Linked DNA regions of Homo sapiens. The protein of the gene in region 4 purifies or fractionates together with the protein of the main gene of each other region. This does not show direct contact. Each region holds a gene or a part of one and is shown on either strand. Other genes may lie near its edges.

Region 1 (7,483 bases), on a different chromosome or scaffold from region 4:
TTTTTTTTTTTTTTTTTTTTTTTTTGAGACGGAGTCTCACTCTTTCGCCCAAGCTGGACTGCAGTGGCGCTATCCCGGCTCACTGCAAGCTCCGCCTCTTGGGTTCATGCCATTCTCCTGCCTCAGCCTCCCGAGTAGCTGGGACTACAGGCGCCCACCACCACGCCCGGCTAATTTTTTGTATTTTTTTAGTAGAGACGGGGTTTCACCGTGTTAGCCAGGATGGTCTCGATCTCCTGACCTCGTGATCCGCCCGCCTCGGCCTCCCAAAGTGCTGGGATTACAGGCGTGAGCCACCGCGCCCGGCTCTTGCTCTTATTTCTAATTGTTGGCCACACTTTCAGAGAATAATGGTTTTGAGTCCTGCTCCACAAAAAGAGCACTCTGTGGTAGGTAGTTTGTGGTAAGCCATATACCTGCCCTGCTCTGAGAAATTCACTGTGATCATTACTTCAGAGTTCTGAGTAGTCCTGCATTAAAGAACTTTGTTTACATTTCTTTGGCCCAGTTTCTCACACTAAACACAGAACCTTTGTTATGTCATCCTATTAACAGTTCCATAGAACATTCAGTTAAAATTTCAAACTAAATTAAAATACATTATCACAGGCTGAATGCAGTAGCTCATGCCTGTAATCCCGGCACTTTGAGGGGCTGAGGCAAGAGGATCACTTGAGCCCAGGAGTTTAAGAGCAGCCTAGGCACCATAGTGAGACCCTGCCTTTACAAAAAAATAGTGAGCTGTGATTGTGCCACTGCACTCCAGCCTGAGCAATAGAACGAGACTGCTTCAAAAACAAACAAAAAGAAGTATCACAGATTAGGACTTTGTACTTACTTTTTTTTGTTGTACTTTGCTTTTTTTGCTGTTTTGTTTTTGTTTTGTTTTTTTTGAGACAGAGTTTGGCTCTTGTTGCCCAGGCTGGAGTGCAATAGCGTGATCTCGGCTCACCACAACCTCCGCCTCCCAGGTTCAAGCAATTCTCCTGCCTCAGCCTCCCGAGTAGCTAGGATTAGGGGCATGCACCACCACACCCAGCTAATTTTGTATTTTTAATAGAGACAGGGTTTCTCCATGTTGAGGCTGGTCTCAAACTGCTGACCTCAGGTGATCCGCCCACCTCAGCCTCCCAAAGTGCTGGGATTACAGGCGTGAACCACCGCGCCCAGCCTGTACTTAACGTTTGTTAATGAGGCTGTTTTAGTTTTCCATTCACCATTGCAGTAACTGCCATTTCTCAAGGTACACTCTCTCCTGCTTCCATACTCCGTGTAGAGAAATAGTCATGTAACAGAGTACTGCACTTAGAATCTAGAAACCTGTGTTTAAATTCTTGCATCACCATTTACAAGCCATGTCATCTTGAATATGCTACTTAATCAGTGCCTCAGTTTCATCTGAAAATTGGAAATAACAGCTACCTAACCTGCATAGCTCTCTGCTACATTGCTGCAAAGATCAAAGATGGCATATATGAAGTGACTTAAGTCTGTAAGATGATTTCAAATAACAATATGTTTACTCGAGGCTTAGCTCAGAGTTGTTTCTAAGCAGACATGGATCAATTTCCTTCCTTTCCTTTTCTTTATAGCCACAGATTACAGCACTAACCCAGCAAATAGCCTGACCATCATAAGGAAGTCCTGGCACACGCGTGAGTGTAGGGACACTCATGATACAAGTGCATCAGCATTTTATGTGGCAGACACCTTCCCCTGTTATAGATCTTTTTTGCTGTAGCTAAGTCAGGAGAGGGAGGAAGGCATCATTTAACTCTCTTCCCTTTTGTCTGTCCATGAGAATGAGACAAAAACAGGATTCCACAGCCATACCAATCCTGATTAGAAGGATGTAGAAACCATTACACTGCCTGCCACTGGACCAGGAAACTGGGATAATTGTCAGTGTCCTCTTTTGCCCCTACTCTGGGATATTAGATGGCTAAATCACTGTCAATACACCCAGCTGATGAAATGAGGCCCATGGGGCCACCAGAGTTAATATTGGGAATGAATATAGGAACATACACTAACGCCTCCTTTGGTAGACAAGCAGAGTACCAGAGTACCAAGGACCTACTGAAATAGCTCAGGCTTTTTCTTCGAAAAGAGAAAAGGCAGAGCATGTGCAAAGGCCTGCTATTTCTGGCCAGTTTCCTCACTTAAACTATAGAGTAACATCAATATTCATGATGCTGAGGAAGGTTAAGTGGATCTATTTTCTCTTCTATAGTTTGGATCATCTACTTCTTCCTCACCCTGACACTATTTAAAAAACCTTCAGATATAGATATCTATATACCTATATCTATTAGGTGCATTAATTTGTGACATACTCCCAGATTTAAAGAGAAAAGTGTCAGAGGGGGGGAAAAAGTACAGAAGCACAAGTTTATATTTATTTAATGCTAAGAACACAGATATTCTAAAGAGATAAACAGAAAGTAGTTTTATTTTTTCTAAATAGGATTTTGATCACAAAAATGCTGGTGATTCAAACCTTTAAAACAGAAGAGCATACAACCTAAGAAAAATGCAAAACAGGCTACAAACCTGTACATCATGTTACTGCACTGAATACTGTAGGCAACTGTAACATAATGGTATTTGTATCTAAACACAGAAAAGGTATAGTAAAAATACAGTATTATAATCTTATGAGACTGCCAACATATACGTGGTCTGTCATTGACCAAAACATCATTATGTAGTGCATGACTATTAAAATTGTGCAAAACAAACCCCTGTATCCATAGTGTTTAAACCATAAAACCAATACCTGGTATATACATGACAAAACAAAGCATGTAAAATAATATGCAGCCTAAAGAATTCAAAGACAACAAAGGTGACAAAGTCAGGTAAAAGAAAGGCAATTAGGGACATAAGATATTTTTTAAAGCAGGAAGCTGATGATGTCCACTGTAAGCCTGGAAGAAACCAGGAGTCTGAACACGGAGCAGTTACTGATAGGAAGGATAAAGTGCTACATCTCTAACAGCAAGCAAATTAACTCTGCTGAAATTGCCAGAATGAAGGCCAAGGTGGTTTTCAGTAAAGAGTGTTCTCCTTGACAGCATAGCCAGCATGTGGTTGAGCCGGGACCTGATACCAGCGAAGTGGAATTGCCGCTCTTTGTTCAAGTTTCTAAGTGAGTCACTCAAGTACAGTTCCAGGTGGGGGGTGCCCAGGTACTTGGGATAGCCAGGATTGTGGAAGTCAGTGGTTCTGATGGAAGCGGGAGAACCAGTGGAGCTTGCCACAGAGCCTTGGGAAGACACAGAGGAGGAAGACTTCAAACTGGAAGATCTCGATACAGACATTTTTGAGACTGGTGACCCTTCTGTAGATTGAGTTCCTCGAGGAAAGAGAATGTTCTCATCCATGTCAGTCTGAGTAGTGGTCGATCTGGACCAAATCGTGGTTTGAGAGCTTGCTATCCTGGTGATGACTGCAGTCTGGGTACCAGCACATGCTGTGGTGATGCTGGTTTGTGTTCCCACCTCACTCACACTCAGCCCTGGCATCTCCTCTCCTGGCTCTGTTTGAGTGGCAGCGTCAATGGCCTTTCTGCTCTGGAGCTCGTCCCTGTGGCTGCTGAAGTAGTCTTCCTCACTAACAGTAGAGGACTCACAGTCATGGGGCTTGCGCTCTGCCTTGCCCTCTGCGGGCATCTCTGGGTCCAGGTCCGCCTTCCTGGGAGTACTTGACAGCCTAGCCAGCCGCATCCGCAGCAGGTTGCCCAGGGTGAGCTCCTTGGACTGTGGTTTTCGGTTGGTGAGGTGATCAAACTTGTTGCTGCTCTGGAAGTGAGACAGGAGTTTGGGGCTGATGGGCTTGGACTGGGCATACAGGATTCGGAACTCCAGATCAAAGTGTTCAACCACTTGGCCAGACAGAATTACCAAGTTACTGCTGTTTAATTTGCCATCCGTCCATGTAAAACTTAAAGATTAAAAAGAAACAAACAGCAGCTGGTAAGGATGAGCAATTTTGTTTTACTCACTGTCCATCTGAATAATATAGTACAGGTATCTTACCACATAAGGGTCACAAATTTGGTGATATCATACCTACCATTTGCATGTATTTAACTAGCCTTAACACATATATAACATTTATGTGTGTTACCATAAAAGTAAAAAGGCCAACTGTTTAACAAACACACTAAATGCTCAGCCTCAGAGGGTTTTTTTGTTTGTTTGTTTGTTTTGAGACGGGGTCTTGCTATGTTGCTCAGGCTGGTCTTGAACTCCTCGGCTCAGGCAGTCCTCCCACCTCATCCTTCCAAAGTGCTAGGATTACAGGTGTGAGCCACCTCACCTGGTCCTTGCCTCAGAGTTTTTAAAAACTGGAAAGGGGGCCAGGCGCGGTGGCTCATGACTGTAATCCCAGCACTTTGAGAGGATGAAGTGGGCAGATCCTTTGAGGTCAGGAGTTCAAGACCAACCTGGCCAACATGGTGAAACCCTGTCTCCAGTAAAAACACATAAAAAATTAGCCAGGCGTGGTGGTGCATGACTGTAATCCTAGCTACTCGGGAGGCTGAGGTGGGAGGATTGTTTGAACCCCGGAGGCAGAGGTTGCGGTAAGCTGAGGTCACACCACTGCACATTCCATGACTGGGCGAGATTCCATGACTGGGCGAGACTCCATCTCAAAAAATTAATTAAAAATAAAAAATAGGGCTTCTAAATATTTAGGCCAGCATCCCCATTTTAAAGGTAAGAAAACTATTTAGGCCAGCACCCCCATCTTAAAGGTAAGGAAACCAGATAAAGGGATTATCACAGAGGGGAGCTACTGCTGGACTCCAGATCAGACCCTAGGCCCTATGAATTGCTAATGCCCTGCTCCTTGCTACTGTTTGAGTGGCAACATCAGTGGCCTTCCTGCCCTCAAGCTTGTCCTTGTGGCTGCTGAAGTAGTCTTCCTCACTAACAGTGGAGGACCCACAGTCATGGGGCTGTGCTGCCATTTTCACAAAACACCATGGCTCAAAACATTTTAGAGCTGATTAGTGGCCATGTGCCCTTGCCTGTACGGTGTCCCTTCCCCGCCTCCCTCCTCTGCTAGCAGAACTCACACCCACCTGTACCCCAGAAAGCTTTCATTATCATACTCTCTCCAACCACAATAGGGGCAGGCATGTGGTCCACACTGGCCAGAGTATCCTATTCCCTTGGATGCAGGGATTCATTCAGGGTGGGCATGTGATCCCACCAGAGCCAAGTAAGTTTTCAGAGATTTCTTTTTTCTTTATCAAATGGATTCTGACAGAAGGGATTGATAGTAATTCTGAGTGAAAGAGTTTCACCCTTTGGGAGACAGCTACTAAAGGCCATATAAGAAAGCCAGGATCTGGCTGGGCACGGTGGCTCATGCCTATCATCCCAGCACTTTGGGAGGCCAAGGTGGCCGGATCACAAGGTCAGGAGATTGAGACCATCCCGGCTAACATAGTGAAACCCCATCTCTACTAAAAATACAAAAAAAAGTTAGCTGGGCGTGGTGGCGGGCGCCTGTAGTCCCAGCTACTCGGGAGGCTGAGGCAGGAGAATGACGTAAACGCAGGAGGCGGAACTTGGCAGTGAGCCGAGATCGTCCACTGCATTCCGGCCTGGGCAAGACTCTTTGTCTCAAAAACAAAAAATAAACAAAGCCAGGATCGTTGACTTCAAAGGGAGAGCCTGCCTAAGAACAAAAGTCAACTCGAAAACATCAGAACCAGGATATAGTGTTCTGATCAGCGTGTGGCTCCTACGTCAAGATGAACTGAAAACCAACTGTACCTTTCTATGCTTCCTTCCGGGTTCTTCGAGTCAGTACGTTTGAGAGTTAGCTGACACTTGCCATCACCCCACTAATGGTGGTATTTGTACCAGAAGTAGGTTTCAAACAGAGATCATAGAACACAGTCAACTCTGTCTCCTGTAACCAAGATATGGCTAATGCAAAGTCCCCCTGAAAACTGCCTTCAAAGCCTGAGAAGGAAGATTCTTTTGAAAGCCTTCAATGAGGCTGGGCCGGGCGCAGTGGCTCACACCTGTAACCCCAGCACTTTGGTAGGCCGAGGCCAGCGGATCACCTGAGGTCAGGAGTCTGAGACCATCCTGGCCAACGTGGCGAAACACCATCTCTACTAAAAATACAAAAATTAGCCAGTCATGGTGGCATGCCTGTAGTCCCAGCTACTCGGGAGGCTGAGGCACAGGAATCGCTTGAATCTGAGAGGCAGAAGTTGAAATGAGCTAAGATGGCGCCACTGCACTCCAGCCTGAGCAACAGAGCAAGACTCCATCACGAAAAAAAAAAAAAAGAAAGCCTTCAATGAGATAATGTAAATAAAGCACCTATCCAACACCAAGATTATAAAACCTCCTCAACAAATGGAAGCTATCATCGTCATCAATTTCATTTGGAGAGGGTAGTTTTTATATTTTAGAACAGCAAAAGTCCATTTGTAGCTAAGTTTGGTTAATATAGATAAATCCTACTTAGGTTAAAAACAAATTTTTTTAATAAACTTCTTACAAAAGGAAATTCCAAGAAAAAGAGTTCAATTTGTTTTTTCCCACAGCCTCTTTGGTGAAGAAAGTTCAAATTTTGTTCTGAGCAATGAGGGTACTGTTGAAAAAGAAAGGTGTCAAGATTTTCTTGATCTTACTGCCTCATTTTCCACAAGCCTTCACATTTCTACCTTTACCCAGGGCTGACACGTAATTATCACTCAGGGTTGTGTGTTTCTTCAAAAATGGGGTTTTCTTTTTAAAATTCTACAGACACACCTCATGCAAACCATCAGACAATCTACCGCAGAGGCGGCAGAACATACAACCATTGGAGCCACATATGTACAAATGGCACAAATTCTAGAGATTCATGTAAACCGCTCATTATCCCCACCCTCTCTTCAACCTTCCTGCTCTCTACCTTAAGATGCCATTGCCAATGTGACACTTCAAAGGTGGGTCAGAAACATAATCAGTATTTTCTAGACTAAAGCTCTAAATTACAAGGCTTGAAGCAACGTGGAGGATTTGAGTCTAAAGCTGACAGCTCTGGCTCTGCCTTCAACACTAATGGAGATGCCTGCAACTGCCCCTACCTTCAAGTGAGCAGGGCAAGCTGGGTCCAGATCCCTAAGGAACCAGGATTCCAGACTGTGTGTTGCTGTTAACCCCCAGTTCGTCCCCTGCAGACCTGGGCCAAGGCTTGAAATCTAGGACTTGCTGACTGTGTTGTCTCAATACAAGTTCAACTTCTGCATTTTAATCTATGGACTACAGGACAGGGGAAGTGACCCCCACCCAAACTGCCTCTAACAGGAGGCTTTGATAACCAGCTGCTATACACAGATGCACGCATATCAGAATGCATGGCCATACAGGCTCCCATTGAGAGGAAAAGGCTTTTACCTTTACATGACATGCTTCTTCTGAAGAGTTTAGATTAATAAGCCTTGGACGGGTTAGAGACTTAC
Region 2 (7,793 bases), about 12 Mb from region 4:
CTTCAGGTGTTTTTCCTGTTGATTATTAATCCTACTGCTTTTTTTTTTCTTACTCACAATCCATTTCTAATCCATCAAAATGCATAGCTTGAGGAAACAGTGTTACCAGCATAAAATAACCCAGGGTGTGCTTCTTGCACCAGTCCCACCAAATGCTCACATAGATTTTTTTCAACGTGGATTAAACCAACATCTCAGGAGATCTAGATGAACAAAACTAAGCTAGTCAATGACAGAAATAAGAACAAGGAGGAGCTGTTTCCCAGAGAAATGCTGTTTTAACATAGCTCAGCGGGCCTCAAAATGAGAAAAACATCACAGTTTGTGTGAAATAGGTCGGTGTTGCCAACCCCACTTCTTTGGGAAGGAGACTGTTCCCCGACATTCCTGGCCCACTTCCTAGCTGTGCCTCCAGGGCAGTCACCCTAAGTGGCTTCTCTGACTTCTATTCCCTTACTGGTGAAACAGGGATAACAGTTCCTCCTCCTCCTGATTCTTGTGAGGATTAAATATTTAAACTCATGGAAAGCATTCAGGACAGTGCCAGGCACAAAAATACCAAGTATTATTATGATTATGAGAGTACATCATAATGAAGACATTATGTGCGTCCTTCCTACTTTATCAGCTCCTCTAGCTGGCAGTGCTCTGCAGGCCCTCCAGTCCCTTGTACTGACATTTTACTGTACAGTAAAGTCTTTGAGACTGCTTGTGAAGTCTCAAAGTCTGGATATTACGACCTAAGACTTGGTAGTAAACTGAGGCCAGGACTGACACCTGGAAGAGCCAGCCCAATGGATGGCCCTAGAGTGTGCTCTCCTGCCCTGTCGGGGTTGGGGCTCAGCTAGATGAGCATGCTTAAACACAGTACAGACCCAGTTTAGAAGGGCATGAAAGCAATTTGGAATGTGAAGACCAACATGTCTTAAACATTTTAAATAGAAAACAATGCACTGCACTTAAAAACGTGAATGTTGTTTAGTAAAACTTTTAATTCAGTTATTAATATATAGTATCTGTGTATATACATTTCTTATTACATGTCACTGTAAAAAAACAAACCACTACCAGTAGGTGGGCCTCTAAAGGCCCATGGTTTCCCATGGTTCTGTCAGAAAAGGAGGCATGCAGTCCTCCAACGCAGGAAGTAGCACACAGGGTGGAAGGAGAAAACAGGGAAGAGCAGGATTATGGTTTTGTTTTTGTTTTTTGAGTCACAGAATACCAACTTTAAATAGTTACAGAAATAGTTATTATTTTTTAAAGTGCTCATTACCCTTCTAAAGCAGTGGTCCCAAATGTTTTTGGCATCAAGGACTGGTTTCGTGGAAGACAATTTTTCCACGGATAAGGGGAATGGTTTCTGAATGATTCAAATGCATTACATTTATTGTGCACTTTATTTCTATTATTACATTGTAATATATAATGAAATAATTATATAACTCATCAAAATATACAATCAGTGGGAGCCCTGAGCTTGTTTTTCTGCAACTAGATGGCCCCATCTAGGGGTGATGAGAGACAGTGACAGATCATCAGGCATCATTCTCATAAGGAGTGCACAAACTAGCCCCTCACACCTGCAGTTCAGACTAGGGTTTGTGCTCCTATGAGAATCTAATGCCCCTGATGATCTGACAGGAGGTGGAGCTCGCTTAGGTGGTAATGCTTGGCTTGCCTGCTGCTCTCACCTCCTGCTGTGAGGCCCTGTTCCTAACAGGCCATGGACCAGTACCAGTCTGTAGCGCAGGGACTGGGGACCCCTGTTCTAAGTGATTGTCAATAAAAGCTAGCTTTCTTATCAACCACATGTAAATTTTCACCATATTTTCCTATGTGCATGCTGAAGAAATTAATCACTTACTGTCAAATAAAAATAGCTTTCTGTAAGTTTATTTTAAAAAGGCATAGCCTGGCTGGGCCTGGTGCCTCATGCCTATATTCCCAACACTTTGGGAGGCCGAGGTGGAAGTATCACTTGAGGTCAGCCAAGGTGGAAGGATCACTTGAAGTCAGGAGTTTGAGACCAGCCTGGCCAACATGGTGAAACCCCGTCTCTATTAAAAATACAAACATTAGCTGAGGATGATGGCATGCGCCTGTAATCCCAGCTACTCCGGAGGCTGACGCATGAGAATCGCTTGAACCCAGGAGGCGGAGGCTGCAGTAAGCCGAGATCATGCCACTGCACTCCAGCCTGGGAAACAGAGTGAGACTCTGTCTCAAAAAAAAAAAAAAAAAAAAAAAAAAGGCATAGCCATGGAAAATATCCGCGGGAACTAAAATCTGAAACGTGGTCTTGGTTTAATCTGAGTGGATCAAAGGCACAGATGGGCACACCACTGCATGATCTAAACAAAACAAATGTGTCTGTCACACTACTCCGTTTACCAGCCCCAAATATATAATTTTTTTTATCTCCAAGTGGTTTTCTAAATTATCTAATTTGGTTTTACAAAGTCATCTATTTTCTTATTTTCTCAACTTTTAGCAGGAAACACTTAAATACAGTAAATGAAAGCAATTCGTGGGGATTGGTCTACTTATCACCAAGTTGCTGATGTTCACATCTCATACTGAAGGACTCTTTAAGGGAAAAGTAACATTCAACAGGAACCTGTGTGCCTGGGAAGCTGCTGTTACAGGAACTAAAATATGTCTTAATTTTCCTGTGCCAGGCCAAAACCAAACCTACTCCACTGGGAGGGTGTTACTAATGATGGACAACCCAGGTCAGTACTCAACCAAGGGAAAAGGTTCTTAGAACTTTCAAAGTGACTGATCTGATTTTCAGAACAAGGGAGAGTGGTTAAAAGGGAAGAGTTGGGACTTAAAAAAAATCGAGCTATAAGAGGTACTTTTTGTGTCTCAGTACCAGGGAGAGGCTAAGAATCCTACCCTGCTTTAAGTCTACATACTCTGGCAACTTTGTGCTTAGGTAAAATTCATGTGAGAAACAGCATAAAATCTTCAACTACACAGCATGCTGCAGGGCCTAGCAGCCTGCCAGTACCAGTGCACTTCCCAGAACAACTAAGAAACATGTAATTCTCAAGAAATTTATGTACTATTAATGAATATAGCTTACCTGAGATTTGGCCCATGTTTTAAAATTTAAGAGCTTCCTGAAGCCCACTAAAATATGATGGTTTTTACTCACATGCAAATCACAGGAATATGACTTTTAAAGTGAGAGGTTATCTTTGAGGTAAGGTATTTTGGCCTAATTGAAAAATAAATATATTTCCAAGATGTTTCCGCTGTTAAAATTAAGGGAAAAGGCATTGTAGATGAATGTTTTATCACTACTTCATAGCAACACGCTTTCTAATCCTTGTAGGAGAAACTTTTCATTCTCAATCCTGTATTTCTTTAAGTAACTCCCCAGGCAATTTTCATTTTTTGCTGTTTAAGAAAATTAAATTAAATTCAAAGCTAAAGTTAACTCTGTGATTATGCATACTAAACATGTGCCAACAACTACAACTTAATTTCTCTACAAACATGGCATTTTAATGTCAACATATCAATTTTCTGGGGGAACAAAAGATGGTAAATAAATAGAGCCAGTGAACAAGTACAGTGTATTTTATTAAAATCATTCTTTAACAGCCATGGCTGGCATTAGAGTGTCAAAATAAGAAAAGACAAAAGCATTCTCTTTTGTCTTTTCTTATTTGTGTATATGTGTATATACACATCCAAAATACATATAATATACAAATATATATTTGTAGGCCAGGTGTGGTGGCTCATGCCTGTAATGCCAGCACTTTGGGAGGCCAAGGTGGGAGGACGGCTTGAGGCCAGGAGTTTGAGACCAGCCTGTGCAACAGAGCAAGACCCTGTCTCTACAATAAATTAAAAAAAAAAAATTAGCAGTCAAGGTGACATGTGCCTGTAGTCCCAGTTACTTGGGAGGCTGAGGTGAAAGGATTGCTTGAGCCCAGGAGTTTGAAGCTGCAGTAAGCCATGATCATGCCACTGCATATGAGCCTGGGTGACAGAGGAAGATCCTGTCTCTAAAAAGAAAAAGGTTTGTAATCATGGCATATATACATAATTTTGCAGCCTCCATTGAAACAATTTAACAAATTATTTTTTCATTTGATACATGGTAATAAACATATATTCACCATTTACTGAGCACCTTCTAAGTGTTTAATGGTTTAAACGTAACATCTTTTTATTCCTGCCATTGTGATTTAGGTATTAAAGATTAAATAATTTGCACAGCATAAGTCAAAGAATGAAGATTTATAACGCTGAAACTTAAAAAAAACCATAATTTACAATGACTACATCCTTCACCAACAGGATCTACTCTCACGTACTTAACCGTTCTTTCACTGTTAGACTGCTAGGCTACTTCCAGTGCTTCTTGTGTAGTATTTCCTAAACTGCCTTCGTATAGAAATCTTAGTGCTTGGTCACTGTTCAAAAGGACTTCTGGTTCTAGTCCAATGAACTAACACACAGTTCCTTACTGAGCATTAAGCATTTCCTAGCTTCTCAACTGGACTCCAATAGAAAGTTAAGCCCTAAGGCACCTTCCGTACACAATGAATTCATCAAGAATGATAGTGGCTGTGCACCATCATTCTCTCATAGAACTTGGTTGAGTTTTAATGCACAGCTGTGATCCACCCCAGTCCTACAAATTAGAGTTGCTCTGACTTGTACAATGATGGAAATAAATCTGTCTGCAAGCAGGGCACTATTTACTCTTCAGATTCTTTAATCACATCTGGCTCCTGCAAGTTCAATTCCACTTGTCAATTTCTAGATATGTAGGGAAATAGGGAAGATGTAGATAATCTGATAATGACAGCATTGAACTGTGTTATATTATCAGTTACTTTTCCTAGCCTTTTGTTGACATCTGGTAGACTCCACACATATAGCACTTTTCAAATGTTGCAACATGTCAAATTCCTAACATCAAAATTTATATATCCAGGTAACATTTATCCCTTCCAATCAGTTTTACTGAATTAGGTATACTTGTGTTTGCTCTTATCTGTCTCTACTTATTAGACCCAAGTAACATTTACCTCTTCCAATCAGTTTTACTGAATTACGTATACTTTTGTTTGCTCTCTTATCTGTCTCCATTCATTAGGCCTTTGACGGCATCACTACTTTTGCACTTGACGATACATGCTGATGATAAACTAAGCACAAAGAGCAATACATGCCATAGTGTCCTGACTAGGGCACGAATGCTGGAACTAAAATGACTGCAAGCCCACCAACACAGGCTGTGTGGAAAACAGCATTGATGTGCCTTCTCTCTGGTACAGCTTCTGAGAAGCTTCTAAAGTCAGCCATACTTAAGTAGGACAACAGAGTACAGACAGTAGACTCCTGCAAGTTAATCAAAACAGCTGAGTCAGGCAACATGGATACCTTGAGAACTGCTATGATAACATGTACTGAAGCAGAGGGGAGCAAGTGTGGAGAGAGACCAAGCCTGAGAATGTGCAGTGCTATTACTCCTAGTAAGAGGTGGCAAAGGCTTGGCCTGCGACTGTGCCCCGTAGGCTGGGAACTGTATAACTCATTCATTTGTCTTGAAACACAGCAGATCTTGATAAATGTCTGCTGAATGACTAGGAATGGAGAGAAAGGGACTGACATAGAAATTCTGAAGGAAGGGCAAGGCACGGTGGCTCATGCCTGTGATCCCAGCACTTTGGGAGGCTGAGACGAGTGGATCACGAGGTCAGGAGTCCAAGACCAGCCTGGTGAAGATGGTGAAACCCCATCTCTACTAAAAATACAAAAATAAATAAATAAATAAGCTGGGCATGGTGGTGGGCGTCTGTAATCCCAGCTACTCAGGAGGCTGAGGCAGAGAGTTGCTTGAACTCAGTAGGCAGAGGCTGCAGTGAGCTGAGATCACGCCACTGCACTCCAGCCTGGGCAACCCAGCGAAACCCTGTCTCAAAAAAAAAAAAAAAAAAAAGAAATTCTGAAGGAAGAGGTAACATGTCAAATGGTGATGGAGAAAGACATCAGGGACCAGGCATGGTGGCTCACACCTGTAATCCCTGCACACTGGGAGCCTGAGGCAGTGGACTGCTTGAGCCCAGGAGTTCGAGACCAGCCTGGGCAACCCAGGGAGACCCTAGGTGCATGCATGACGGTGCACACCGGTGGTCCCAGCGACTTGGGAGCCTGAGGTGGGAGGATCGCTTGGGCCCAGGAGGTTGACGCTGCAGTGTGCCATGATTGCACCACTGAACTACAGCCTGGGAGATAGAGTGAGACCCTGTCTCCAAAAACAAAACAAACAAAAACAAACAAACAAACAAAAAACAAAAAACAAAAAACCCAGTTAATAGGGTTGCTAAAAAGCAAAAAAGAAAAGGCAAAAACTGTTCCTGAACCTTCTGGCTCTTCCTGGATCTACCATTACCAGTGGAAGAATTCTGAATAATTCTTACTGAGATTGAAAGAGACACAAAGAATGAGTTGTGCCCTCTAGTTCTTAAAACCTTGTTTAATTCTACATCCCACGGTGTATGAAAATAAGCTTGCTCCTACAGAAAAGAGGTAATATAGAATGATACATAATCAGTACACTAGTAGTACCATATATAATCAGGGTAATATCAAAGGCCTAAAAAATTGATTATAAAAATAAATTCTCTCACCTGATCACAATTTTCTTCTACTTTGCTACAAACTTATTTTCTGGTAATAGGCCCTTTTGGCATTAGATGCAACAGAATCGATGAGTCAATTTAAATCGTTTTTTTTCCCAGTCTCTAAGCGAATGGTTGCATAAAGTCGTCTCCTTCACTAAAAGGGGAGTGTATGTAGGAACGTGATCATAAATTTTTCTTTTGGGGTGAAAGTATTTTGGAACTAGATAGAGGTGATGGTTGCACGACACTGTGAATGTCTTAAATGGCACTGAATTGTACCCTTTAAAAGGACTAATTTTATGTTATGTGGATTTTCCTTCCACTAAAAAACTGAACGGTGCGGCCGGAACACTGAGCTCAGTGAATTCTCTAAGTAATCAATGGTTGCACTCTGGTGCCCTCTGAGTGTTTGACCTTTCACCCAGAAAAGGCTGTAAACTCACTCTGGGAAATCATCTTTTGTCCTAAGAGCCTAGGCTTGCTAGAGGCACAGAGGGAGTTTCAAAGGCCTCAATCACCCAGGACACCGGCAAGTAACGCTTTGCGCGCCGCGGCCGTGACCTCGGCAGGAGCCGGGGGCTTTGTTGTCGCTGTGCTCGCCCTCTGCGAACGCTGTCGCCCCGACACAGCGGTCCTTCGGACAGCCTGGTCCCTCCCCACCCCACGCACCTCCAGGCTAGGACTCCGGGCCACCACCGGGAACCCCCGCCACCGGGCACGTTCAGCCTCTGCTTAACCGGAACGGCCGAACAGCGCAGGCCGGCAGGAGTGTGGAGGCGATCGGCCCCCGGGGACGCCCACCCCCGGGATCCCCTCCGGCCCGCACGCGGTTGCCGCGCGGCCTGACGGGAAACGTAGTTTCCGGGGCCAAGAGAGCAGCCCCGCCCGGGACTTGTTTATCGTTGCAAAGAGGGGCCGGAGGCGAAGGAGGCGGCGAGGCTGTGCGGCGGGTCGGAGCGACGCCGAGGTCTGACGTGTCCGCGTCCCTGCGGCCCCACTCCCGGCCGCCGTGACCTCCCCTTGCACGGGGCGGACACGAGCAATGTCACGGGCCCCGCCGCGCGCCGCGAGCACTCACCAGGGTGAGGGCTGCCCGGGTGGGCTGCAGCTTCCTCTTGCTCACAGCCCGGACAGTTG
Region 3 (7,793 bases), on a different chromosome or scaffold from region 4:
CGAGTCAGAAGCTTCCCTCCCAGGAGGACCAGGACATCAGAGTTTCTCATTTTGTCCCCAGCTCCCTGTGGCTGCAGTTATATCCTGGACAAATGCAATTGTGAGGTGGGGGATCCCTTCCTCCAGTCAGCCCCATTCATGGAACAGGGGCTCACCTTGGGCACAGTGTGTTGAAAATGCTGGGCCCCGATGACTCTTTCTCTGGCTCATGAGGGGGATGGTTCTACACCAGGAGGTTACTCAAGAGGGCCTGAGGCTATTCCTCATCTCTTCCCCACAAGTCCACTGAAAACTCAGCTCCTAGGGCAGAGGATGTCACTCAGAGAGAAAACTGCCATTGTCCCCAATTTCAGCTCTAGTCCTGGCTCAGGGATATTGTCGGGGGAGGGGGAAAGGAGGGCGGAAAAGACAAGTAGGCCATAAAACAGGGAGCTCCTCATTTCTTTTCAAAGGAACTGACTTCACCTGCAACAGAGCTTGGAGAAGCTGAAGCCTAAGGGTGCTCTAAAGCAGGGGTCCCCAACCTCCGGGCTACAGACCAATACCCATCCAAGGCCTGTTAGGAACCCGGCTGCAGAGCAGGAGGTAAGTGGTGAGCCAGGAAGCATAAGCATTACCCCCTGAGCTCCCCCTCCTGGCAGATCAGCTGCGGCATTAGATTCTCACAGCAGTGTGAACCCTATTGTGAAATGCACATGTGAGGGATCTAGGCTGCATGCTCCTTATGAGAATCTAATGCCTCATGATCTGAGGTGGAACACTTTAATCCTGAAACCATCCACATAAACCCATCACAAGCTGGGTGATCCGGTCTGTGGAAAAACTGCCTTCCACAAAACTGGTCCCTGGTGCCAAAAAGGTTGGGGAACCATTAAAGAACAGTGGTGGTTATAGTGAGAGAGAAATGGGAGGAGATTTAAGATACAGGCTGAACAGTAGGCTAGTTAGTTTGCAGGAGAAAACTAGGGAATATGACAGCTGGGACGAGCCCTTCTGTAGTCAGAATAAATATCCAGCACTGCTCTCGTATGCAATCCCTACAAAGGAGCCAGAATTTGATTGGATTAGTTTATAGAGCAATTTATGCCCTAAGGCACTGTTGCAAATAATCAAGCAAGGAGCCAGCATCTACTGGAGTTTACAGTCACTATGTTCACGGAAAGAGAGGAAGGCAGCCCTACCAAAGCAAGTGTCATCCCAGGGTAATTGTGGGCACACCTAAAACTGTACCTCCCTGAACAGCAACATCAGAGGCACAATACTGTTGGGGTCTGGGGAGGTAGTGGGATATGTTTCCCTAAAATAATTGAGCCACTCATTAAGCAAACAAGCAAATAAAAAGCCCCCAAAAGGAGGGGGAGCTGTACCCAGAAATGCTACAATATATGATCTAAAAATTTACTTTCCAATGAAAAATTACAAGGCATGCCAATAAACAGAAAAGTATAACCTATACATTTGGACACAAGGAGAAAAAATGTCTGAGAGTAATCGGATGTTGGATTTTTCAGCCATTAAACAAGGGCTGAAAAACCACCTATTGAGTACTATCCTTACTGCCTGGCTGACGGGACCTGTCATACCCTAAACCTCAGTATCATGCAATGCACCCATGTAACAAATCTGCATATGTACCCCCACATCTAAAATAAAAGATGAAATTATAAAAAAGAAAAGTTCTTGGCCAGGTGCAGTGGCTCAAGCCTATAATCCCAGCATTTTGAGGCCAAAGCTGGTAGATTCCTTGAGCCCAGGAGCTCCAGACCAGCCTGGGCAACATGGCAAAACTCTGTCTCTACAAAAAGTAGAAAAATTAGCCGGATGTGGTGGCGCACGCCTGTAGTCCCAGCTACTTGGGAGGCTGAGGTGGGAGGATCACCTGAGCCCAGGGAGGTTGAGGCTGCAGTGAGCCGTGATTGCATCACTGCACTCTAGCCTGGTGACAGAGTGAGATCCTGTCTCTAAAAAAACCCAAAAACCAAACAAAAAAATAAAGTTCTTTCTCCACTAAAAATTTAAAAAAAGAAAGAAACTTAAAAAAAAAAGACTCAAATTACTAGAATCAGAAATAAAGAGAAGCCATTACTACTGACCTTACAGAAATAAAAAAAAGATTATAAAGGAATACTATGAACAATTATATACCAACAAATTAGGCACATTTATAGAAAGACATAAACTACTCAAGAAGAAAACCGAATCAAGAAGAAAGAGATAATCTGAATAAGCCTATATCAAGTAAAGATATTGAATTAGTAACCAAAAAATATTCACAAGAAAAACCAAGGTCCAGATGGCTTCACCAATAAATTCTACCACACATTCAATGAAGAATTAATACCAATTATTCAAAAACCATTCCACATAGAAAAGAGGGAACATTTCTCACTCATTTTGTGATGTCACCATTACCCTGATACCAAAATGAGACAGACATTAAAAAAACAAAAACAAAGCAAAGAAAACCTACAGACCAGTATATCTTAGGAATATGGCTGAAAAAAACCCCTCAGCAACATATAAAAATAATTATATGCCATAACCAAGTGAGATTTATCTCAGAAGGTTAGATTAATATCTAAAAATCAATTAATAAAATACATCATATCAACAGAATAAAAAAATTACATGATAATCTCAATAGAAATAGAAGAAGCACTTGATAGAATTCATTACCCTTTCATATAAAAATGCTCAACAAACTAGGAAACAGAAGGGAACTTCCTCAACTTGATAAAGAGCATCTATGACAAATCGACATCTTTGTTTTTTTTAGATTGTTTCGCTGTTGTCTCCCAGGCTCAATGGCTCCATCTCGGTTCACTGCAACCTCTGTCTTCTGGGTTCAAGCCATTCTCCTACCCAAGTAGCTGGGATTACAGGCGCCCGCCGCCACACCTAGCTAACTTTTGTATTTTTAGTAGAGACGAGGTTTCACCATGTTGGCCAGGCTGGTCTCAAACTCCTGACCTCAGGTGATCCACCTGCCTTGGCCTCCCAGAGTGCTGGGATTATAGGCGTAAGCCACCTCGGCTGGCCAACAAATCAACATCTAATAATGTCACGCTATATACATCATACAGGTAACATCATATATCATGGAGAAAGACTGAATGCTTTCCCCCTAGATCAGGAACAAAGCAAGGCTGTCCATCCATTTTCATTACTTCTAAATTCAACACTGTATTATACTACAGGTTTTAGCCAGAGATATTAGACAAGAAAAAGAAATAAAAGGCATCCAGATTGGAAAATAAGTAACACTATCTCTATTTGCAAAAGACATGATCTATAAGAACATCCTAAGGAATCCACTAAAAAACTATTAGAACTAAAATGAGTTTAGCAAGGGTGCAGGATACAAGATAAATATATTAAAATCAATTGTATTTCTATACACTGGCAATCAACAATCCAAAAATGAAATTAACAATTTCATTTACAAAACATCAAAAAGAATAAAATAGTAATAAATTTAACAAGAGAAGTGGAAAACTTATACTCTGAAAACTATAAAACATTGTTGAAAGAAATTAAATGAGATCTAAATAATTGGAAAAATATCCCATATTCATGTATTAGAAGACTTAACCTAGTGAAGATAATAATATGTCCCAAACTGATCTACAGATTCAATGCAATTCCCATCAGAATCCCAGCTGGTTTCTTTGTAGAAAAACTGATTCCAAAATTAATATAGAATTGCAAGAGGTCCAGAATAGACAAAACCATATTGAAAAATACAAAGAGGACTCACGCTTCCTGATTTCAAAACTTACTACAAAACAACAGTAATCAAGACAGTGTGGTGGCACAAGGATAGATGTATAGATCAATGGAAGACAGTTGAGAGTCTAGAAATAAATCCATACATGTACAGTCTAAATGATTTTTTAATTGGATGCTAACTCCATTAACTGGAGGCAAGAATATTCTCTTTAAAAAATAGTGTGGGGACTATTGCATGTCCACATGCTAAAGAATGAAGCTGGACCCTTACCTCACACCACATACAAAAATTAACTCAAAATCAATCAATAATCTAAATGTAAGAGCTAAAACTATAAATCTCTTAGAAGAAAACACAGGGGTAAATCTTCCTGACCTTGAATTTGGCAGAGGAGATAGATACCAAGGAACGAACAAACAAAAAAATAGACACACTGGACGTCATAAAAGTTTTTTGGGTCAAAGGACATCATCAAGAAAGTGAAAAGACAATGCACAGAATGGGAGAAGATATTCGCAAATAATACATAAGAGACTTGTGTCCAGAATTGATGAAGAATTCTCACAATAATAAAAAGACTAATAATCCAATTTAAAAATGAGCAGAGTATAAACAGACATTTCTTTCATGAAGATATACAAATGGCCAGTAAGCACATGAAAAGATGACCAACATCATTACCAATTAAGAAAATGCAAGTTAAGTTAATGAGATACCACTTCATACCCACTACAATGGCTAGGATAAAGAAGTCAGATAATAACAAATGTTGGTAAGAATGTGGAGAAATTGGAACCCTCGTACACCGCCTGTAGAATATAGATTGGTATGAGCCACTTTTGAATACAGCCTGACCTTTCTATGGCCATACCACCCTGAACGCACCCGATCTCATCTGAATGTAGTCTGATACTTCCTGAAATGATTAAATGTAGAGTTATCAAATGATCTGGCAATTTCCCTCCTATTATTTCCCAGGGAAATAATATGTCCCAGGAAAAAACAAATGTCCATACAAAAACTTGTACATGAATGTTTATGGTAGCATTATTCATAATAGCCAAAAATGTGCAAACAAGTGTTTATCAACTGACAAACGAATAAATAAAATGTGGTATACCCACATAATGAATTATTAGGCTATAAAAAAAATAAAGTACTCTCCATGCTACAACACAGGTGAATCTTGAAAATATTATGCTAATTGACTGAAAGAAGCCAGTAACAAAAGGCCACATATTATTTGAATCCATGAATATGCCAGGTCCACAATAGGGAAATCAACAGAGACAGAAAGTAGATTAGTGGTTTCTTAGGGCTGAAGGGTGGGGTGGGGTGAGGAGATAGGAGAGTGTTAGGAAAAGGATAACAAGGTTTCATTTTGAGGTGATGAAAATGTCCTAAAATTGACTATGGTGATGGTTGCACAAATCTGTGAGTATACTAAAAAACACTGAATTGTCCACTTTCAATGGGTGGATTGTATGGGTTGTCAATTATATCTCAATACATATGTTAAAAAATTTAAATGCCCAAATATTTTTGAACACTGCTTCTCTTTATGGTTTTACATCAAGGAGTTTGCAGTTTTGCAAATGGAAATAGATATGTAAAGCTTAATGAATTCATCCAATTACTCAAGTAATTTTCAATATATTAAGAAGGTAGCTAGAAAACTTTAGAACATTGAATGCCCATCTGGTCAACACTCTAAAATAAATCCACTAAATCACAGCTCAATTTTCCTCTATAAACAGTTATTTTTTTCTGATACCAAAGATATTCATTTTATTTAAGTATTATAGTTAGAATAACCCCCACTCCAATATCTTTAATAAAATGAAAAGTCATTTTACAAACCGATTTGAGTTGGCTATTTTCATCTTTCAACTTCACAACATGCTTGATTTTTTGTTTCAAATTCTGATGACCCAATAATTTAGCATATGAATCTCTTATTTTATTTAGCTGTTCCTGAGCTGCACCATGTTCATTCAACAATGCCTGTTTTTCTACTTCAAAAGCATCTAGTTGTAGCTGAAAAAGATTTTTTAAATAAAGTTAAGACTTAAAACAGTTTGATCTTACTAGTTTCATATAAACCATAAACACTAAAGAAAATTAAAAACACAAATGAAAACAAGGTATGTTCACATATTCTCAGGGCTCTCCATAGATTCTCTATGAGAATCTTTTAAACTTTGTATTTTTCATTTTAAAGATCATTAAAACAGAGGAAAAGAAACAAGGTAAAAAAGCCAGCTGGCCAGTTTTATCTGTATCAGTTAGATTACCACATTATAACCAATACTGTACTTCTAAGTTCCAAAATCAGCATTTATTCTTTTTTCTTTTAAAAGATCAGTATATTGAGAAACAATGAGTATTTGCAATAAGTCATACCACAAATTAAAATAGGTTAATTATCAAAAGCTCATACCAGGCAAGCCCTCTGAGCCAAACTTTTAAGTTCCACATTACAAAGTTTTTTTTTAAACCACAAAGGGTCCATTGAAAAAATTATGTCAATTAAATTTGTCAATTATACTTCAATAATGTGGGAAAAAATTATGCATAATTTAATAAAATGTATAAACCTTTAATAGTGAGCTAAATTGGCACTGTAAGTGCAGAGCAAAATGATCTTGCAGAAAACCCGAGTCACTGTCCTCACTATAATAGGGAACAAAGTGAGTCCCTAAAATAAACACAAGTAAGTTTACTCCTAACTGACAAACCTGAAAAGGTTTTGTTTTATTATATAGTTCTTCATAGAGGAGACGCCACTTGTTAATTTCTTCAGTTAATTCTGCTGTTGTATTTTCTTTTTCAGCTTTTCTGCATGGAAGAATTAAATTGAGAAAAACATAGTTATTTAAAAAATCACATCGTAACTGAGTTAACAAGGCACTCAGGTTCTAATCATAGATTACCTTCCTTCTTCATCTTCCAGCTGTTTTCTAAAGTCTTCCTCCTGTTGCTTGAGTTGGTTCTGCAAATCAGTTATTTTTTGAAGAAAAGAAACTGTGATTTCTTTAATTTCTGTTTCCTTTAGTGCTGACTTGGTCTGCAGATCTAGAAGCATCCTTTGGTTTGAGAGAGAAGAGGTCACTAAACATTTTATAGCCACTTTCATTAATTTTTCCTTTTTTTTTCTTTAAACCTCAAGGAACTCTTCAAGAAGTGTCATTTTTTAACTGAGTAAATTCTTAATTTGCAGTATAAGATGGCCAAAAGCAAGCCAAGGGACAGTTACTAGCTGGCTTTCAACATTAAATTGTCTTAATGGTTCTAAGGCCATTATTTGCTCTATATACCTTACATATTCTTGATTTGAGCTCTCAGTTGCCAAAATCTGATGCTGAACATCCTCTGCATTTTTCCCAGCCTTGGCCGCTTTTTCCTGTAATGATGAGTTCTCCAGCTTAAGATCTTCTATCTCACTGGCTGTTAACGCTTTATAGCTTATTAAAAAGAAAAAAAAGTCAAAGTAGTTTTCTAACTATTGCGTATGACAATCATAACTGATTAGTTTACACTTTATATACTTCTAAGTAAAACTAAAAAGTTTTTAATGTATTCATGCATTTAACACAGGTAAGAATTCAGTGTTCTGAGGCAAGTACTAATGAGTTTACATGGCATCTGCTGTGTATTCAAAGAAAAAAAAATCAAGTGCCTACTAGGTGCAGGAAGTATGCATACAGAGATGGAAAAGAAATCAACTACCAAGCATGAAAATTACTCACAATTTAAAAAATAAGAAGTGAGACTAGAGCCTAATGAGTAAGAAAGGCTGGAGCAGAAGCTGGTGGCATGAGGGTCATCACCGCAGGGCACAGTGGGCTTACCTGGCGGACAGACGGGAACCATTAAAGGTGTCCAAGTAGGCTGGGCGTGGTGGCTCATGCCTGTAATCCCAGCACTCTGGGAGGCCGAGACGGGTGGATCACCTGAGGTCAGGAGTTCGAGACCAGCATGACCAACATGGTGAAACCCCATCACTACTAAAAACACAAAAAATTAGCCAAGCGTGGTGGTGGACACCTGTAATCTCAGCTAC
Region 4 (7,793 bases):
CTTCACTGCCTCTCAAAAATGCTGCTGTGTGCGCCAGCCGCTCTGCTGGCAAGTTTCTGCCTGCTTCTTCTCCACAGTCCCCATATCCTATCCTTATGTGGCAAGAAGTGAAAATCTTGTTTGTGGCACAGGGACCAGTCTCCCATGAGCATCAGGCCTTTCCTGGACCACTCCCCACTCTCTCTGGAGTCTAACACTTTACTGTCTGGAGATATAGAAACTTATGAATACAGAGGCTGTGCAGGCTTCCGGCATCACCCCCATCACCAACACCACGCAGCATATATTCTCTCACTTCATCCTCCTAGCAACCCTAGAAGGGATGTTCTTTTATTATTCCTATGACACAGATGAGGCCTCAGAGGCTCTGAAAGGGTAGGCAACTTGCCTAAGGCACAGCCAGTATAAGGCAGATGTGACCAAACCCAGGTCTGTCTGATTCTTTTTGTTTGTTTGTCTTGCTCTGTCGCCCAAGCTGGAGTACAGTGGCGTGATCATAGCTCATGGCAGCCTCGACCTCCTGGACTCAAGCAATCCTCCCACCTCAGCCTGTCAAGTAGCTGGGACTATAGGCAGGCACCACCATGCCTAGCTAATTTTTTGATTTTGTAGAGACGAGGTCTCACTATGTTTCCCAGGCTGTTTTCAAACTCCTGGCCTCAAGCAATCCTTCCACCTCGGCCTCCTAAAGTGTTAGGATTACAGGCATGAGCCACTGTGCCTGGCCAGGACTGTCTCATTCTAAAGCCCTAATCACCAAACTTCCTGCCGGGCACCATCTGAGCTCCCCACCAGCTGGAATCCACCTGGATGCCCACACTCTAGTCCCTACCCTCCAAGCGTTGTCCTTTGGTGTCTCCTGGCTACACGCATGCAGGCTTATGTGACCTCTCCTACCCATCAGACAGTATAACAACACATCAAAGACGCTGGAGTTGGCCATGTACCGGCACCGCCTGGTGGTCAGTGGCATGAATGCTGCGGGCACGCTGTCTGGGTGGAAATTCTGTCTTGACCACTGAGCCCCTGGACAAGTTACTTAACCTCATCCTCTCATCTGGAAAATGAGGATAATAACAGTACTACCTCATGTGGCTGGGAGAGGATTCAGTGAGTTAATATGTGCAAAAGGCTCAGAACGGTGCCTGGCATGTGGCAAGTGCAACGTGAGCGTGAGCATCGTCTCCCTCACTGAGTTTGCATGACAGCTCGAGAGCTACTATTCCCCACCCTGCACCCACCCCCTCAGTCGGCTCACAGAGTTCGGAATCCAATGCCCGGGAAAATACAACAAGCCCCCCCGCAAGGGAGGAAAGGACCTACCATGACCTGACCCATCTCCCTCATATCCACAAGGCTGTGGGATAACTATTAAAGTGCCCTAATTCCCATTTAACAGATGAGGAAACACACACAGAGAAAGTAAGTTCCCCTTGTCACGAAAGAGAGCCAGGATCCAAACCCAGGTGTGTTCAGCCCATGGCAGGTGCTCAGCAGACACTGCGTAGAGAAAGCAGACCCAGCTCTGGCGCTGGCCACTGCTCCACACCACTGGGTCTCCCTCCTTGATATCACCCCTTCCTCCTCCCAGGCCTAGATGTGCTCATGGATATTTATTTATTTTTCTTTCTTTTTTTATTTTTAGAGAAAGGGTCTCACTTTGTCACCCAGGCTGGAATGCAATGGCATGATCATAGCTCACTGCACTCTTGACCTCCTGGGCTCAAGTGATCCTCCTGTCTCAGGCCCCTGAGTAGTTGGGACTACAAGTGTGTGCCACTACACCCAGCTAATTAATTTTTAATTTTTTAAAAAGGTCTCATTATGTTGCCTAGGCTGGTCTCAAACTCCTGGCCTCATGCAATCCTCCAACCGTGGCCTCTCAAAGCACTGGATTGTGAGCCACCACGCTTGGCTACACACTGTTATTTCTAAGGCTTTGGAAAGAAGGCTTTTGTCACATAAGATACCCTGCTTCCAGCTCTAGGGAAGGCACAGACATGCCGGACAGGGAGGCAGAGTGAGCACAGCCTGGAACAGCAGTGGCAGTGGGTGGCGTCGGGCAGTACCTCCCCCTCCAGCTCGATGCCCTACCTTGAGTGCTCGTCTTGGCTCAGAACTGTAGGGAGGAAAAAGAGAAACCTCAGAAAAGAGAAAAGCCACAGGACAGTCACCAGTGGAATGAAAGAAGGAAAACCCTGGAGAAGGGGGACCAGGGAAGCAGGAGCCCGGGAATTCTCTTTGGGCCATGCCCATGGACTAGGCCCTGTGCTGTGTGGAAGGCAGTGGCCTGGGCATGGGAGGCCAGGTTCCGGCTGTAGCCCTGCCTCTTGCTGCCTGACCCTGGGCCAGTCCTTCTCCCTTGCCCCAGCTCAGCTGTCCCTGCCAGAAAATGAGTGGGGCAGACTAGATTTCTGAGTCTTTCCAGATCTGATATTCAAGAGGTCAGTGATCCTGTTCTCAAAACCAAAGTCTGAATAACAAGGGGCATTCCCTAAAGTTGGGTTCCTCAATCACAGGGCAGGCAGGAAACCTCAACATTCTCTGTCCTCAAACTCAAGACAATGGATATTTGATGGGTATTCTAAAAGCTAAAAACTAAGGAACACCAACTACATGCAACTCTTTCTCTTTTTTATTTTTTTTTTAATAGAGACAGTGTCTTACTCTGTTGTCCAGGCTGGAGTGCAGTGGCGTGATCACAGTTCACCACAGCCTCGAACTCCTGGGCGGCTCAAGTAATCTCCCACCTCAGCCTTCTGAGTAGCTAGGACTATGGCGGGTGCCTTCATACCTAGTGAATTTATTTTATTTTTTTTTAGAGACAGGGTCTTGCTATGTTGCCTAGGCTGGTCATGAACTCCTGGGCTTAAGCAATCCTCTAGCTTCAGCTTCCCAAGTAGCTGGGACTACAGGCACGTGCTACTGTGCCTGGCTAATTTTTTAATTTTTTGTAGAGATGAGATCTTGCTATGTTTCCCCGGCTTGTCTCTAACTCCTGGCCTCAAGTAATCCTCCTGCCACAGCCTCCCCAAATGCTGGCATTACAGGTGTGAGCCACCCATGCCTGGCCTTATGCAACCCTTTAAAGCACAAAGCACAAAACACTGGGCCTCTGAGGATCATATGCAAGTGTATTCTTGGTTAATGTGAATCACATACCCAGAGTCTCCATGTAGCTGAGCTCACTGATAAAGAAAATTCATGGCCAGGTGCGGTGGCTCACACCTGTAATCCCAGCACTTTGGGAGGCCGAGGCAGGCAGATCACGCGGTCAGGAGATCAAGACCATCCTGGCTAACATGGTGAAACCCCGTCTCTACTAAAAATACAAAAAAATTAGCCGGGCATGGTGGCGGGCACCTGTAGTCCCAGCTACTCAGGAGGCTGAGGCAGGAGAATGGCGTGAACCTGGGAGGCGGAGCTTGCAGTGAGCCGAGACCGCGCCACTGCACTCCAGGCTGGGTGACAGAGCAAGACTCCGTCTCAAAAAATAAAAATAAAAAAAAATAAAATTCCTGAATATGTAAATTCAGGGGCACACTCAGTCTCCTAGTGAGTCCATGATTACAATCAACTCTCAGGCTGTCTGGAGCCACCTGGCTGATCTAGTGTTCTTTTTTTTCCTTTGAGATGGTGTTTCACTCCTTCACCCAGGTTGGAGTGCAGTGGCACAATCTCAGCTCACTGCAACCTCCACCTCGTGGGCTCAAGCGATCCTCCCACCTCGGCCTCCAGAGTAGACGGGAACACAGGCGTGCGCCACCACAAATCTTTCTGACCCCTGTGCTGCTCTACCGGGGCTTGCACAGTGGATTCCGGCAGTATGGGTGGAGAGAAGAGGAAGCCGCCTGGCTGGGGGCAGGCAGGGTAGAAAAGCAATCAGATGGAAGCAGTTTTCCCTGCTGTGTGGAGGGCTGAGAGCTTTCTAATCATCTGGCTGCATTTGCATTGGAAAGGTTATGTTTTTCTTTTAACCCAAAAGAATCTCTGATTTCAGACTAAATAAGGGAAAAGATTCGGGAACTGGTTATGTGGGTTTTCAGTCTTTGCTGAAAGAAAGGGAAGGGAATCAGGTTTCACGTCCTTTTCCTTTATCCTTCTAACAGCCCTAGTCAAGAGGACTAGTTGGGCTATTTGACACAGAGGTGAGCTAACATGCCTAAAGTCACACAGCCAGAAAGAGGCAGAGCCAAGAGTCAAAGAGGTCAGTCTGACTTCAAAGCTTGGGTGGTGGCCACTGTTCAACACTGCCCACTGAGAGCTTTTCTCTCAAAAGCTTCCTGATTTCTTTTTTTTTCTTTCTCCATCTGCCCTCACCGAGTAGTTCTTTGATAGAGTAGCATGAGAGTTCTCAAGGTTATAAGTCTATATGTACAGTCTCGTGTGGCTTAATTATGAGGATACACTCTGAGAAATGCGTCATTAGGTGATTTCACTGTTGTGCAAACATTGTAGACTGGACGCAGACAAACCTAGGTGATTTAGCCTACTACGCACCCAGCTAGATGGTGTAGCCTATTGCTCCGAGGCTGCAGACCTGTGCACCTGTTACGGTACTGAATACCATAGGTGGCTGTCACATAATGGCATTTGTGTATCTAAACACATGTAAACATAGAAAAGGTAGCATGTTGTGCTATGATGTTATGACGGCTATGATGTCACTATGTGACAGGGATTTTTCTGCTTCATTGTAATCTTATGGGACCATCACATATGCAGCCTGTTATATGGCATCTGACTGTACATATGTGGTTGTGAGTGGCAGGGTTTGGGGCAGGACGAACTCTGGTTGTATGGCTCCCTTTACGGACAGTGGAGGCTATGAGTGCACTCCACAGCCACAGGCCTCCCAGTGGGACAGTTCCTGTCACAACCCTTTAGAGAGGAGGCTGCGGGTCACGGCAGGCAACACACTTCACATAAAGTTCCTACCTCCTGTGACATCACTGGTCCCTGTGGGGTGGGGAAGCCTAGGGAAAGATAGGGACAGAGAAGGGGAAGGAAGGGGAGGAAAGGAGGAGCAGGGATGGTGGCAGCAGCTAGAAGCGGCAGCTGAGCAGACAGACCAGACCGCAGACATGAGCTCCAGCCCAGCTCCAGCTCCTCCACTTCTTCAGCACATGACCCTGGGCAGGCTCCTTAACCTTTCTCAGCCTCAGCATTCCACATCTGTAAAGGGGGAGCACACCAGCGGCTGCCTCACCTCACAGGGCTGGCGCGAGGACTAAATGTGGCGATGCACCCACCGAGGGCAGTGCCTGGCACACAGGAAACACCCTATAAATTCTACAGATGGGAGCAGTGACTATTGGCAGCTGCAGGTCATCCGTACAGTGTGCAGGCGCAGGACTGTGGGGGGAGGGTCGTGCTGGCCCCTTAGGGCTCTCGGGTGCACTGGGATGGCACTAAGGGAGGTTGACCAGGCCAGGCCCCACACTTAGCTAGTCAGGCTTTCATCTCTCATTTGATAATCTAGAGGCACCTTCACTTTTCAGTAGCCCAGGATACCAGGGCTACTGGTTAATGGGTCAATCAAGGCCCAGGCAAACTGCACTGGGCCTTGTGGTAAAGAAAGTGAAGAAGCGTAGAGCAATATTCCCATCAACATGTGTTTCTAATGTGAATATTCTAGGATGAAGGGGTATCCCCACTCCACCTAGCAAACCCTTAGGGGTGGAGAGCGCACCTTCCCTGAGGGCTGGGACAGAGGACCGGCAGGACTGGCAGGCCCTGAGGGGAGGCCCCTACCTTCAGGTGCTCTATCTTCCCCTGCTGGCTCAGGAAGTCCCTGTTGGCAGCGTCGGGGCGCAAAGGAGACTGGTCAGGGGGGTGCGTGAAGTCCTGGGTGACCTTCTCAGAGAGCTTGCAGATGACCTGCTGCTTGGCGTGGTTCTTGTCCATAAGCAGCTGCACGTGCTGCTGTAGCTCCTGCACCTGCTGCTCCCGCAGGCTCGCTGTGTGCGCCAGGCTCTCCCGCTCCTGCTCCAGGGCCTCCACCCGCCGGCCCAGCTCCGCGATCTGCCGCACTTTGTGCCGCACCAGCTCCAGCCGGTCCTTGTCCTCAGCCGCCGCCAGGTATGCGCTGGACGCCCGCTTCTCCTGCTGGGCGGCCTCCAGTGCCTTGTGCAGGATCTTCACTAGCTCCTGGGCAGGGAGAGGGAAGAATCTTGTGAGCTCAGGGAGGGCCTGCTGGGCGCCACAGTGGGGTATATGTTATCAGTAGTTCTCCTAACAACCGTGAGAGGTGCCCAGCAGCATCCCTGCGGCATCTCATCCTGACACTCACTTTCTCCTTCTCTGTTCAAGTGACTGTTAGCTGGGCACATGGTTCCCCAGCTTAAAACTGCATCTCCCAGCCAAGCCATGGTGAGGTGTAGCCAAGTAACTATTCTGCCTAAATGGGAAATGAAAAGTGAGATGGGCAGCTTCTGGGTCCTACCTTTAAAACCACTAGATACACGCTCCTCTGGTCCAGTTCTCTTTGCTTCTGGCTGGGAAGTGGCAGGAACTAGAGTGGCCGCCTCAGACCCACAGCAGAAGGTACATGTTGAGAAAGGGCTGCCCCCCAGCTCAGAGTTGCTCACCTACCTCTGGGTTCTTTAATGTGAATGAGAAACCTCTCACTCGTTTTGGGCCACAGTGCTTTGAAACTTTTTTTTTTTGAGATAGCGTCTCCCTCTGTTACCCAGCCTGGAGTGCAGTGGCACAGACATGGCTCACTGTAGCCTCAATCTCCTGGGCTCAGCTGATCCTCCCACCTTAGCCTCTCAAGTAGCTGGGACCACAGGAACATGCCAACACACCAGGCTAATATTTGTATTTTTTTGTAGAGAAGGGGTTTTGCCATGTTGCCGGGCTGGTCTCAAACTCCTGGACTCAAATGATCTGCCCACCTTGGCCTTCCAAAGTGCTGGGATTACAGGTATGAGTCACCACACCCAGTGGAGATGTTTTTGTCACAGCAGCTGAACCCATACCCTGACATATACACATCCATTTCAGGGATGAACAAACTGAGGCCCAGCAGAGAGTAGAATGGAATTCAATCTCAATTGGCTAGATTCCAAAGCCTGTGCTCAGTAACTAAGAAAACCAGGGGTGGCAGCTATGTGGCATTACTCTTCCCTCTCATCCCTGTGGCAGACATCACTAATTAATCTCCCATACTTCTTCCTGCACAGCCTACCCTAGTTGAGGCCTCAGAATCATTCTCAATATAGCAGCCAGTCACTACCAATCAAGTTGAGTCAGGGTTAAAGAGGAAATACACTGGCAATCCCCATGTAAAGCCACACACAGAGGACCTCATTCAAGCCATTTGTGCCTAGTTACCTTCAGCCCACCAGCCGATGCCTGCAAAGCTGGTGGAAGGAACTCTAGAAAGTTCAGAAACAATAGAGCTTGATTTATTCCTCAGCAGGGGCAACTAATTCACACAGGAACTCAAGGTCTGCTCAGCTCCCTGTGCCTTTAAGCCTGTAATTTCCCCAGGGAGGGCCACGCCTGGACTCAGGCCTATCTGTCCCAAAGCAGGGATGTGAATTTGTTCTGGGCCAGGATCAGGACATCAGCAGCCAGGTCCACGTGGAACTAATACCAGGTAGGTATGACTTTCAGGCAACACTGCCCTGCTCTGTGCTTCTCATTTGGAAAAACATGGTTTCCTAGAGACATGTCAACTATACCACACCAAAGTATTAAAATGAGTGGATTGGCTGGATAGCCTTATTTGCTAAGAACAATTCTATATTGGAGGAAAACTGCCAAAAACCATGACTTTTTTGGAG

What was found.
Region 1: the proteins of TBC1D2 (region 4) and FAM83D purify together in Homo sapiens (affinity purification with mass spectrometry; one large-scale study listed by BioGRID and IntAct). This does not show direct contact.
Region 2: the proteins of TBC1D2 (region 4) and ISCA1 purify together in Homo sapiens (affinity purification with mass spectrometry; one large-scale study listed by BioGRID and IntAct). This does not show direct contact.
Region 3: the proteins of TBC1D2 (region 4) and HMMR purify together in Homo sapiens (affinity purification with mass spectrometry; one large-scale study listed by BioGRID and IntAct). This does not show direct contact.

What each region holds. Positions count from the first base shown.
Region 1 is NC_000020.11:38,948,001-38,955,483, reverse strand, and holds the end of FAM83D (protein FAM83D), read right to left. Parts: intron 3,946-7,483; coding exon 2,964-3,945; 3' UTR 2,378-2,963; downstream 1-2,377.
Region 2 is NC_000009.12:86,274,644-86,282,436, forward strand, and holds part of ISCA1 (iron-sulfur cluster assembly 1 homolog, mitochondrial precursor), read right to left. Parts: coding exon 7,735-7,793; intron 7,439-7,734; exon of another isoform or gene 7,326-7,438; intron 6,811-7,325; exon of another isoform or gene 3,574-6,810; intron 1-3,573. UniProt on the Homo sapiens protein: Involved in the maturation of mitochondrial 4Fe-4S proteins functioning late in the iron-sulfur cluster assembly pathway. Probably involved in the binding of an intermediate of Fe/S cluster assembly.
Region 3 is NC_000005.10:163,482,043-163,489,835, reverse strand, and holds part of HMMR (hyaluronan mediated motility receptor), read right to left. Parts: intron 7,233-7,793; exon of another isoform or gene 7,195-7,232; coding exon 7,048-7,194; exon of another isoform or gene 6,817-7,047; coding exon 6,664-6,816; exon of another isoform or gene 6,569-6,663; coding exon 6,469-6,568; intron 5,768-6,468; coding exon 5,591-5,767; intron 586-5,590; exon of another isoform or gene 453-585; intron 1-452. UniProt on the Homo sapiens protein: Receptor for hyaluronic acid (HA). Involved in cell motility. When hyaluronan binds to HMMR, the phosphorylation of a number of proteins, including PTK2/FAK1 occurs.
Region 4 is NC_000009.12:98,215,079-98,222,871, forward strand, and holds part of TBC1D2 (TBC1 domain family member 2A), read right to left. Parts: intron 6,151-7,793; coding exon 5,755-6,150; intron 5,176-5,754; coding exon of another isoform or gene 5,146-5,175; exon of another isoform or gene 2,126-5,145; intron 2,120-2,125; exon of another isoform or gene 1,843-2,119; intron 494-1,842; exon of another isoform or gene 1-493. UniProt on the Homo sapiens protein: Acts as a GTPase-activating protein for RAB7A. Signal effector acting as a linker between RAC1 and RAB7A, leading to RAB7A inactivation and subsequent inhibition of cadherin degradation and reduced cell-cell adhesion.